Linked DNA regions of Homo sapiens. The protein of the gene in region 1 interacts with the protein of each later gene in a pairwise test. Each region holds a gene or a part of one and is shown in the gene's direction. Other genes may lie near its edges. The genes, in order: SMAD9, MCM3AP and KDM6A.

Region 1 (3,657 bases):
ACTCCGTCTCAAAAAAAAAAAAATAAAATTTGTGTATGTACAATGAAGGATTACTTGATTTTTTTGTGTGATATATTCACTTCATTTCTAATATTATAAAACCTTATTTTTGGAACAAATAAACAGGAATGATGGGAGGAATAGTATATGAGACCTTACTGACTGGTTCTTGGGAGTGATTGTTAACATGGGTTGCAATCCACTTTTATTTTTTTATTTTTATTTATTTATTTTTTTGAGATGACATCTTGCTCTGTCACCCAGGCTGGAGTTCAGTGGCGCTACCTTGGCTCACTGCAACCTCTGCCTCCCAGGTTCAAGCAATTCTCCTGCCTGAGCCTCCCGAGTAGCTGGGATTACAGGTGCCCACCACCATGCCTGGTTAATTTTTGTATTTTTAGTAGAGAAGGGGTTTCACTGTGTTGGCCAGGCTAGTCTTGAACTCCCGACCTCAAATGATCTGCCCACGTCGGGCTTCCAAAGTGCTGGGATTACAGGCGTGAGCCACCGCACCCAGCTGCGATCCACTTTTAAATGGATTTGTGGAAAAAGCACAGATTATCATTAAACTAAGCGGCATTTAGGTCACACATCTCATTCATCTGATCAGTGATCTGACAACCTGATGGGAGAGTCACATCTCCTAGGGTTTCAGGAATCAGTGGGAGAGGCACGCTATGAAAGGGCATGTGAAGGAAGGCTGTGTTTTTGTGTCTGCAGGTGTGCACTTGTACTACGTCGGGGGAGAGGTGTATGCCGAGTGCGTGAGTGACAGCAGCATCTTTGTGCAGAGCCGGAACTGCAACTATCAACACGGCTTCCACCCAGCTACCGTCTGCAAGATCCCCAGCGGCTGCAGCCTCAAGGTCTTCAACAACCAGCTCTTCGCTCAGCTCCTGGCCCAGTCAGTTCACCACGGCTTTGAAGTCGTGTATGAACTGACCAAGATGTGTACTATCCGGATGAGTTTTGTTAAGGTAAGGAGTGCTTGCTATCACGTTATAAAATGTTCAGTGAAAAACAAAACAAAAAAGCACCCTGACTGATGTGGCAGGCAGTTGTGCGGTCAATTCTGATAGACAAAACCAATTTATTATTATTATTATTTTTTGAGACGGAGTTTCACTCTGTCACACAGGCTGGAGTGCAGTGGCATGATCTTGGCTCACTGCAACCTCTGCCTCCCGGGTTCAAGCGATTTTCCTACCTCAGCCTCCCGGGTAGCTGGGACTACAGGCACGCACCACCACGCTTGGCTGATTTCTGTATTTTTAGTAGAGACAGGGTTTCACCATATTGGCCAGAGTGGTCTTGAACTCCTGACCTTGTGATCCTCCCATCTTGGCCTCCCAAAGTGCTGGGATTACAGGCGTGAGCCACCGCGCCCAGCCCAAAACCAATTTTTTTGAATTCTATTGTTTTTAGGAGGAGTTCCTCTTTGAGTATAAACTGTCTTGTTTAGCAATTATATGAAAATTGTTACACATTACTTTTGAGGAAAAACAAGGTGGCTATTTGATTGTTTTTAATGCAGATGATAAAGTAACAACAGTAATTTTACAGGACTAGTGCAACAGAGATTTTTTCCATCCTTCCAATTGCCAAGCACTGTTATCACTCAGTGAATGTTGGTGAATTTATCTGAATTCAGTAAGATACTCTCCTTACTCTTAGAAAGCATACAGGCACATGGAGGAGATAATATTTATGAATAAGCTACAAAAATAGGCAGGGTTGGTTCTAATACAAGATAATAAACTAAGTAGTGTTATAAAGGTATAAACAATTTGGAATAGAAACGGGTGTGATTAATTCAGAGAGCAGTATATGTTCTGTTGATGAATATTTGTTGAATTTCTCATATCGAATCTTATTAAGGTTGCTATGAAGGCTGGAGAACCAAGGAAGTTTCTTAGTGGGAAGGAAAGACAACTGGGTTTGTATATGGAAGTGAAAGCCTTCAGTTTCATCACCTGCTATTTTGTCTGTTGCAAAGTACTCGCAAATGAGTCTAGTATTTCAAAATATGGGCTTATCAAAGTATCGGGGTATGTGTGACAGTTTTCTTACTGCCATGATTCCATCCAGGGAATCAGCATGGCTTGTTCCAGGCATTTTTTTCAAAGTAAATTTTATTAGCACTTTAAAATTACCATGACAAATAATTTTTCTATACTCAAATTATGTTTTTATTATCACTTTAGTAATTATTTAAAAAGTAAGAACAATATAGTTTCCAATTTTAAAAAACAGCTGCTTGAAATTATTTCTCTTTCATGGTGACAAAGCAGTTTCATTCAAATTTAGTGTTTTGAAAGCATATATTATAAAGTTATATTAACAAATAACTTCGAAATCTTTTCAAATGTTCTGTTGCTTTAGAAACGGCAGAGGGCATCATTTGAATCATACAGTTTTTTTTTTTTCCGGGTCTGTGTTTTTAAAATTAGGATGAAATGCCAATATCTCATAGGTAATTATTTCACTCTGATTAAATATAAGCTTATATAGAAATCTGATTTTCCTAATAACTAGATACATTTCTCAGATAGGCAGCATTTACATTCATAAAGCTACACAATTGACACAGAAGACAAACTGTTCCTAATACTGCAGGAACTTTTAAAATAAATACATAGTAAATATAACTATAGATCATTTTTTTTTAACATTTGAGATGAGCAGCTGTAGCTACCACTGGGCTGATGGATCAGATCTCTTTAAGGTTTCTTTCAGCTCTGATTTTTACTGATTCTAGGACTTAGTCAGTCAACAAATGTTTATTGAGCACCTGCCATGTGCAGGCCAGGCACGTGGGACATGCCAATGTTTACTCACAGATCTCTGACCTCAGGGAACCAATATTCTAGGAAGGAGAGATGGATAATAAACAACAGCCAAAACACAGAAGAAGGATGGAAAGAGAAAGTCTGGGGGCAGGGTGAAGGGAATTGGAGCACGGGGGCAGTGGAGTCATCTGCACATGAGGGTGGGCCTCATTGAAAAGGTGACAGGTCAGCAGAGACTGGAAGGAGACATGGAGCTAGGCCCAGGGACCCCTGGAGGAAGAGCAGAAGAAGAGGGAAGAGCAAGGCAACAGCATACACCTGGAAACTCTGAAGAGCAGGCAGGCCAGTGTGGCTGGGGCCTAATGAGCAGGGGAAGTGAGATGAGAGCAGCCGCAGGGAACCATAGCAAGGCCTCCTGAACCTCTGCTACGAGTTCAGCGGTGACTGTAAGGAGGTGGCGAGCTTTTGCAGGGATCAGAGCAGAGCATTTTCATGATCTAACTTCTATTCTTAAAGGATCGCCCTGCCTGCTGTGTGGAGGATAGATATTATACAGGCAAGGTTGCAAGTAGGGAAACCACTTAGGAGGCTATAGTAATAGTCAGGTGAGAGTCGCCCCCACCTGGAGGGATCCAGTACAGCTGTGAGAAGTGGAAGGATTCTGAATTGTGAAGGCGGATCAGGCGTGGGAGAAAAAGAGGAAGATGAAGTTAGTTGCCTTCAATCAAGATGGAGAAGACGCAGGTGTAATTGAGATGTCCGTTGCATTCAAGTGGAGTTGCTGAGTAGCCAGTTCGATATAAGAGTCTGGATTCGGGGAGAGAGGTTTGGGCTTGAAATACAAATTTGGGAATTGTCTGCAAAGGGA
Region 2 (3,657 bases), on another chromosome or scaffold:
TCCACCACGCCCAGCTAATATTTTTGTATTTTTAGTAGAGATGGGGTTTCACCATGTTGGCCAGGCTGGTCTCGAACTCCTGACTAGAGATGCATGCCCGGCCAAACCATGCATTTCTAATAATCACTTTCAGCAGTTTCCAGCATTACTTTTTTTTTTTTTTTTTTCCTGAAGAGCTGTCTCCTGGCCGGGCGCAGTGCTCACGCCTGTAATCCCAGCACTTTGGGAGGCCAAGGCGGGCGGATCACAAGGTCAGGAGATTGAGACCATCCTGGCTGATATGGTGAAACCCCATCTCTACTAAAAATACAAAAAATTAGCCGGGCATGGTGGCAGGTGCCTGTAGTCCCAGCTACTTGTGAGGCTGAGGCAGGAGAACTGCGTGAACCCGGGAGGCGGAGCTTGCAGTGAGCCGAGATTGCGCCACTGCACTCCAGACTGGGCAACAGAGCGAGACCCCATCTCAAAAAAAAAAAGGCTGTCTCCTAAAGGAAGGGCAGCATGACTTTTTGCAGGTGCAGCTTATCACAGTGAAGCAGACACGGTCGGCCATGTTAGTTGTGTTAACCGGCATGTGATGTGAAGTGCCCTGGCTACCTTGTCTGTCTGGGGAACTCTGTTCTCAAAGGCTTTTGCTTTTCACACCAGGCCTACTTTGACAGATCTCCGGCTGAATCCATCTTTTCATCTTTTGGCCAATGTATTTTCCTCACTTTCCGTTTTGTGACGAGCAGTTTAGTTGCTGGTTTGACATAATCTTTGACATTCAAGTTCAGAAAATGATGAAAGCTAGAAAATGGGGAAGCTGAGAGAGAATGCCTGATTCCTTTTAGTATGTCCTTCTACCAAAATAATTTCTGTTTTAAAACATGTAGGCTTAATATTTCCTTATGATATTAAAGACTTTTTTCATGCTGAGTTTATTTCTTTGAAATAGAAATCAGTAAGTGTTCATTTTAGCTGTTTAAATGAGCCTATCTTTTTTTTTTTTTCGGGGGGTGGTAAGTTAGAGTCTCACTCTGTCACCCAGGCTGGAGAGCAGCAGTGTAATAATCTCAGCTCACTGCAACCTCTGCCTGCCAGGCTCAAGCAATCCTCTCACCCCAGCCTCTCGAGTAGCTGGGACTAGAGGCACATGCCACCATGCCCGGCTAATTTTTAAATTTTTTGTAGAGATGGGGTCTCCCTATGTTGCCCAGGCTATTTTGTTTTTCAAAAGTATGAAATATTTCAAAATTATATTAAAGTCAGTGAGTAATGTGAATAACGCTTTTGTGCTCATTACCATCCTTATCAAAACTCATCTCATTTCAGTGCTTGTAGTTTCTCAGCTTTAGAGGACCAGAAAATCTTGAAAGATGAGGGGACGTGTTCAGAAATGAAAATGCTCTGAAGGCCTTCCTGGGACGAGGGCCCTCAGTGTGGTGTTTACTTTATAGCTCTCCAGTGAAGAAGCCAAGTCTTCTAAAGGCCCACCAATTCGAGGGAGACTCTTTTGACTCAGCCTCCGAGGGCTCCGAGGGCCTCGGGCCATGTGTGCTCTCCCTCAGTACCCTGATAGGCACTGTGGCTGAGACATCCAAGGAGAAGTACCGCCTGCTTGACCAGAGAGACAGGATCATGCGGCAAGGTATGGCACTTGGTGGCAGAGGTTCTAGGGGCCTGGTGAGGTCGTCATCTTGGGTGCCATCAGGGCAGGAGCAACTCCTTTCCATTGGGCTCTATTGCTGTTGAGTCTCAGAGCCTGTGATATGCTGTGTCTGATCTTCATAGTCTGCCTGTCTTCTTGGAGTGAGTGTTGCGTGTATGTGTACATAAATGTGCAAATATGTTTGCTAATGTATGTATAAAATAGTAGTGGGAGGATGCAAAAGAATGGGCTCCTGTCTGTAGAGGGAGCGGGATTCCGAGGGGCAGAGGTTATGGTGGAGTGCTCCGTCTTGGACAGGGCATTCTTACACTGTTACAATGTTGAACTGTGTGAATGTATTACCTACTAAAAAGTAAGTATTCCATTAACACTAAAAATATATGCAGGGACCAAAAATAAAAGGAAAAAACACAGGTACTTCTCTTAGCCAATTTTTTTCTCTTAAATTTCAGCCGGGCTGGGCATGGTGGCTCACACCTGTAATCCCAGCACTTTGGGAGGCTGAGGCATGAGGGACCACCTGAGGTCAGGAGTTAAAGACTAGCCTGGCCAACATGGCAAAACCCCCATCTCTACAATAAATAAATAAATAATAAATAAGCAGGCTGGGTGCGGTGGTGTGCATCTGTAGTCCCAGCTACCTGGGAGGCTGAGGCAGGAGAATCACTTGAACTGGCGAGGTGGAGGTTACAGTGAGCCGAGATTGTGCCACTGCACTCCAGCCTGGACAACAGGGTGAGATTCTGTCTCAAAAAAAAAAAAAAATGCTGGGCGTGGTGGCTCACGCCTGTAATCCCAGCACTTTAGGAGGTCGAGGCTGGTGGATCACCTGAGGTCAGGAGTTCGAGACCAGCCTGACCAACATGGAAAAACCCCATCTCTACTAAAAAGACAAAATTAGCCGGGCGTGGTGGCACATGCCTGTAATCCCAGCTACTTGGGAGGCTGAGGCAGGAGAATGGCTTGAACCCGGGAGGCTGAGGTTGCGGTGAGCCGAGATTGTGCCATTGTACTCCAGCCTGGGCAGCAAGAGCGAAACTCCATCTCAAAAAGAAAAAAAAAATCAGCTATAGGAGTTTCCTCTTTTTAAAAGCTGTGGATAATTTGAATAATCACCATGTTTCCTTAATATAATAACATATAGTAATAAAAGCTGCCATCAAACATCATATCATTGATACAGTGATTTTTATATTCTAAAAATTATTATTAGGTATTAGAATTTTTCTTTTTTTTTTTTTCCTCGAGATGGAGTCTTGCTCTGTTACCCATGGTGGAGTACCATGACAGAGTGAGCGCAACGTCAGCTCACTGCAACGTCCGCCTCCCGGGTTCAAGTGATTGTCTTGCCTCAGCCTCCTGAGTAGCTGGGACTACAGCCATGCGCCACCACGCCCGGCTAATTTTTGTATTCTTAGTAGAGATGGGGTTTCTCCATGTTGGTCAGGCTGGTCTCGAACTCCCGACCTCAGGTGATCTGCCAGTCTTGGCCTCCCAAAGTGCTGGGATTACAGGCGTGAGCCACCAGGCCGGGCCCAGGTATTAGAATTTTTCAACATGAAAACAATAAGTATATATTTTGAGTGTGAAGTTGTTGCATTTCCTTTTCCTTGCAAGCTACATTGTAACTTAAGTGTAATAGCAGTTTACTCATTCAGGTAAGAACCCAGTTAACGTCCATTATATGATTCTTATATTAAAGTCATGGTGAATACTGAGACAGTTTTAGAATAGTGATATATTTTGAATATTTGCAGTTGTTACAAGTCAATCCTTTTAGTAAACATCCTGCACCATGATTTTTTGTCATTGAGGTCATTACAGGAGTTAGAAAACTCCGGCTGAAAGTGAGGACACTCCCCTGCTTTTATCTGCAGTGAGGGTCTGTGACTGTTGGAGAGGTGACTCGGGGGTCTTTCTCTTAGTCTGCAGTGAGGGTCTGTGACTGTTAGAGAGAGGTGGACTCGGGTCTTTGGGAGCTTTGATGTCCCACTGCCTGGCATAAT
Region 3 (3,203 bases), on another chromosome or scaffold:
ATTACTTTTCTCAACTTTAAATGTTTTAATATTGTCTTCATCAGGCCTGCTGAGCATTGTCATTTTAAAATCTGAGAATATTTGATAAATTGATGAAAGAAAAATTATGAAGTCATAGACATTAGAATCAAGTCTCTTGGCATTATTTCTAGTTGGTATATCTTTTATGCTAAAAATATTCAATATTCAGTTGCTGGTCACAAATAATTTCTCCCCCACAATAGGTATTGTCTTCTAAGAACTCTGAAGCAATGTCAGACATTGAGGGAAGCTCTCATTGCTGCAGGAAAAGAGATTATATGGCATGGGCGGACAAAAGAAGAACCAGCTCATTACTGTAGCATTTGTGAAGTAAGTAATTGTTTTTATCCACAGTTGTTTTATAAAGCCTCTTCCCTCTCCACTGTTGGTTTCTCTTTATTTTTAAAAAACTTTTTTATACTTTTATGTAATCCAGTTTATAGTAATTAACATTGGATTCAATTTTGTTGCTTAGCCATTATATTAAAATTCAGTGTGATAATAATGATATTTCACTGTGAATTAACCTTAAAAGTATCTACTGCAGAGTCATTTTTGTGGTAGATCTTCAACAGACAATAATCAGCAAATTTAGTCTGAGATTTTAAACTAAGAACAATCTAGATGTACACAGATGCCAATAAACTGGATGTTTGGTGTAACTCTAGGCAGATCGATTATCAGTCCTCTCTGGTGCAATTAACAATACATTTGTCAATCTTGTGTGGCCAAGGCTTGCAAGAGGTGCAGGAACAAAGATGTGGTGCCTCCTATGAAGGAGCTTAAATTCTACTTGGAGCAGACAGATTATAAACAACTAATTGTAATGTACATGAGACTATGATGAATGTGAAGTTGGACTTCCTGTTAATGATAACACTGAGGGGGAAAATGACCTAATTTTTTCTTCTAGTATTGGCATAAGAACTCACAAACGTATTAGCATTTGAGTCCATCCTTGGAAAAAAGAGTATGATATCAAGTAGACTAAAAAAGTGATGAGAATCGGAGGTAGACTGTCATGGGCTATAGGCACAAGAAGAGAACAGGGAAATGAAATGGTTTTAGAAAAGGTTGAATGTGTTCCGATTTGGCTGGAACACAGACTGTGCAAATTCCGCTCATAAGTCTAGGTGGCATTTAATTTATAGCACATCTTGAATGGTTTTAAGGAATTTGATATTCCAAGGTTATTGAAGCCATTAAAAGGTTTTGAGCAGGCAACTAAGGGTAAGTAAGATATGTGTTTCAGGGAGAAAAGTGGTTGGAAAGGACAGCGATATATAAGCTATTGCAGTGGTCTTAAGAGTTATGGGACTGTAAACTAGTTCAACCATTGTGGAAGTCAGTGTGGCGATTCCTCAGGGATCTAGAACTAGAAATACCATTTGACCCAGCCATCCCATTACTGGGTATATACCCAAATGACTATAAATCATGCTGCTATAAAGACACATGCACACGTATGTTTATTGCAGCATTATTCACAATAGCAAAGACTTGGAACCAACCCAAATGTCCAACAATGATAGACTGGATTAAGAAAATGTGGCACATATACACCATGGAATACTATGCAGCCATAAAAAATGATGAGTTCATGTCCTTTGTAGGGACATGGATGAAATTGGAAACCATCATTCTCAGTAAACTATCGCAAGAACAAAAAACCAAACACCGCACATTCTCACTCATAGGTGGGAATTGAACAGTGAGATCACATGGACACAGGAAGGGGAACATCACACTCTGGGGACTGTTGTGGGATGGGGGGAGGGGGGAGGGATAGCACTGGGAGATATACCTAATGCTAGATGATGAGTTAGTGGGTGCAGCGCACCACCATGGCACATGTATACATATGTAACTAACCTGCACAATGTGCACATGTACCCTAAAACTTAAAGTATAATTTAAAAAAATAATAATAATAATAAATAAATAAATAAATAAATAAATAAATAAAGTACCTGTAAAAAAAAAAAAGTTATTTTAAGGCCTAGACTAGAACCTGGCAATGGGAATATTAAAGAAGGGAAAGAATTCAAAAATATTTAGAGGGTAAAATCAGCGAGACACCTCATTAAATGGCAGAAGTGGAAGGACAAGTTGAAGAATGCTCACCAATTTTCTAGCTCAGGTCACTAGGTTTGTATTGCTGCTTGTTGACAGTAATGGATAACATGGTGAACTCTAGGATTGTAGTTAACTGTTAAAAGAAGACATGGGATCATAAGAGTTTTCTGTCATTGAAGAAATTTAAGGATAAGCCAAAGACAGGATGTTGATGGTCCATTTCAAACCTTGAAATTCTGTAATTCTAGCATCAACCTTTATTTGAAATGATAGAATCCATTGATTTTTTTTTTAAATGTCATATGGCCTGACCAAAGTGAGTCATTAGGAGATCAGATAGATTCCAGTTAGGTGTGTTGTTCCTTATCCTACCTGAACCCTAGCAACTCATCAATCTTTCTGTATAAGATAGAGGTATTATTTCTAAAATCATGCTGTACTCATGAATACATAAAAATGATCACTTATGTCTGATTGTATACTAATGTTTTAGATTTAAAAATAGGTTGACCTTTATCAAACTTTTGAACTGGGCTTTGCCAGTGGTTGTCATGAGTATGTCATTCCCTTTGATTATTCCCCTAAATATGCATTACTACCCATGTCTTTGGATTTGGTGCAAAATAAACCTGGTCTGTTAAAGATTCTCAAACACAGCCATGTTTTTCTTACCACCTACTCTTAACCAGAGATCACTGTCCACAATTTCATTCAAGTAGAATTCCATGATTATACTAAAGCAGTACAGTAAATACCACTATCTCTATTGAATACGTTTTTCTCTTGTATAAAACAGGTGGAGGTTTTTGATCTGCTTTTTGTCACTAATGAGAGTAATTCACGAAAGACCTACATAGTACATTGCCAAGATTGTGCACGAAAAACAAGCGGAAACTTGGAAAACTTTGTGGTGCTAGAACAGTACAAAATGGAGGACCTGATGCAAGTCTATGACCAATTTACATTAGTAAGTCAAATCAACATGTGAGTACATAGTTAGCTGGGTTATGAAGCAGCAGTGTTTGCTCTGCCACCTGATAAGTAGGAGGTAATGAAATATTTTAAATTTTCCTTTGGCTCATTATATATTGCATGAGGGTATATTC

The links.
Region 2: the proteins of SMAD9 (region 1) and MCM3AP interact in a two-hybrid assay, tested with the Homo sapiens proteins (one large-scale study listed by BioGRID and IntAct).
Region 3: the proteins of SMAD9 (region 1) and KDM6A interact in a two-hybrid assay, tested with the Homo sapiens proteins (one large-scale study listed by BioGRID and IntAct).

The regions. Positions count from the first base shown.
Region 1 is NC_000013.11:36,850,739-36,854,395, reverse strand, and holds part of SMAD9 (mothers against decapentaplegic homolog 9), read left to right. Parts: intron 1-720; coding exon 721-977; intron 978-1,878; coding exon of another isoform or gene 1,879-2,058; exon of another isoform or gene 2,059-3,657. UniProt on the Homo sapiens protein: Transcriptional modulator activated by BMP (bone morphogenetic proteins) type 1 receptor kinase. SMAD9 is a receptor-regulated SMAD (R-SMAD).
Region 2 is NC_000021.9:46,275,500-46,279,156, reverse strand, and holds part of MCM3AP (germinal-center associated nuclear protein), read left to right. Parts: intron 1-1,439; coding exon 1,440-1,630; intron 1,631-3,657.
Region 3 is NC_000023.11:45,107,186-45,110,388, forward strand, and holds part of KDM6A (lysine-specific demethylase 6A), read left to right. Parts: intron 1-224; coding exon 225-351; intron 352-2,893; coding exon 2,894-3,064; intron 3,065-3,203. UniProt on the Homo sapiens protein: Histone demethylase that specifically demethylates 'Lys-27' of histone H3, thereby playing a central role in histone code. Demethylates trimethylated and dimethylated but not monomethylated H3 'Lys-27'.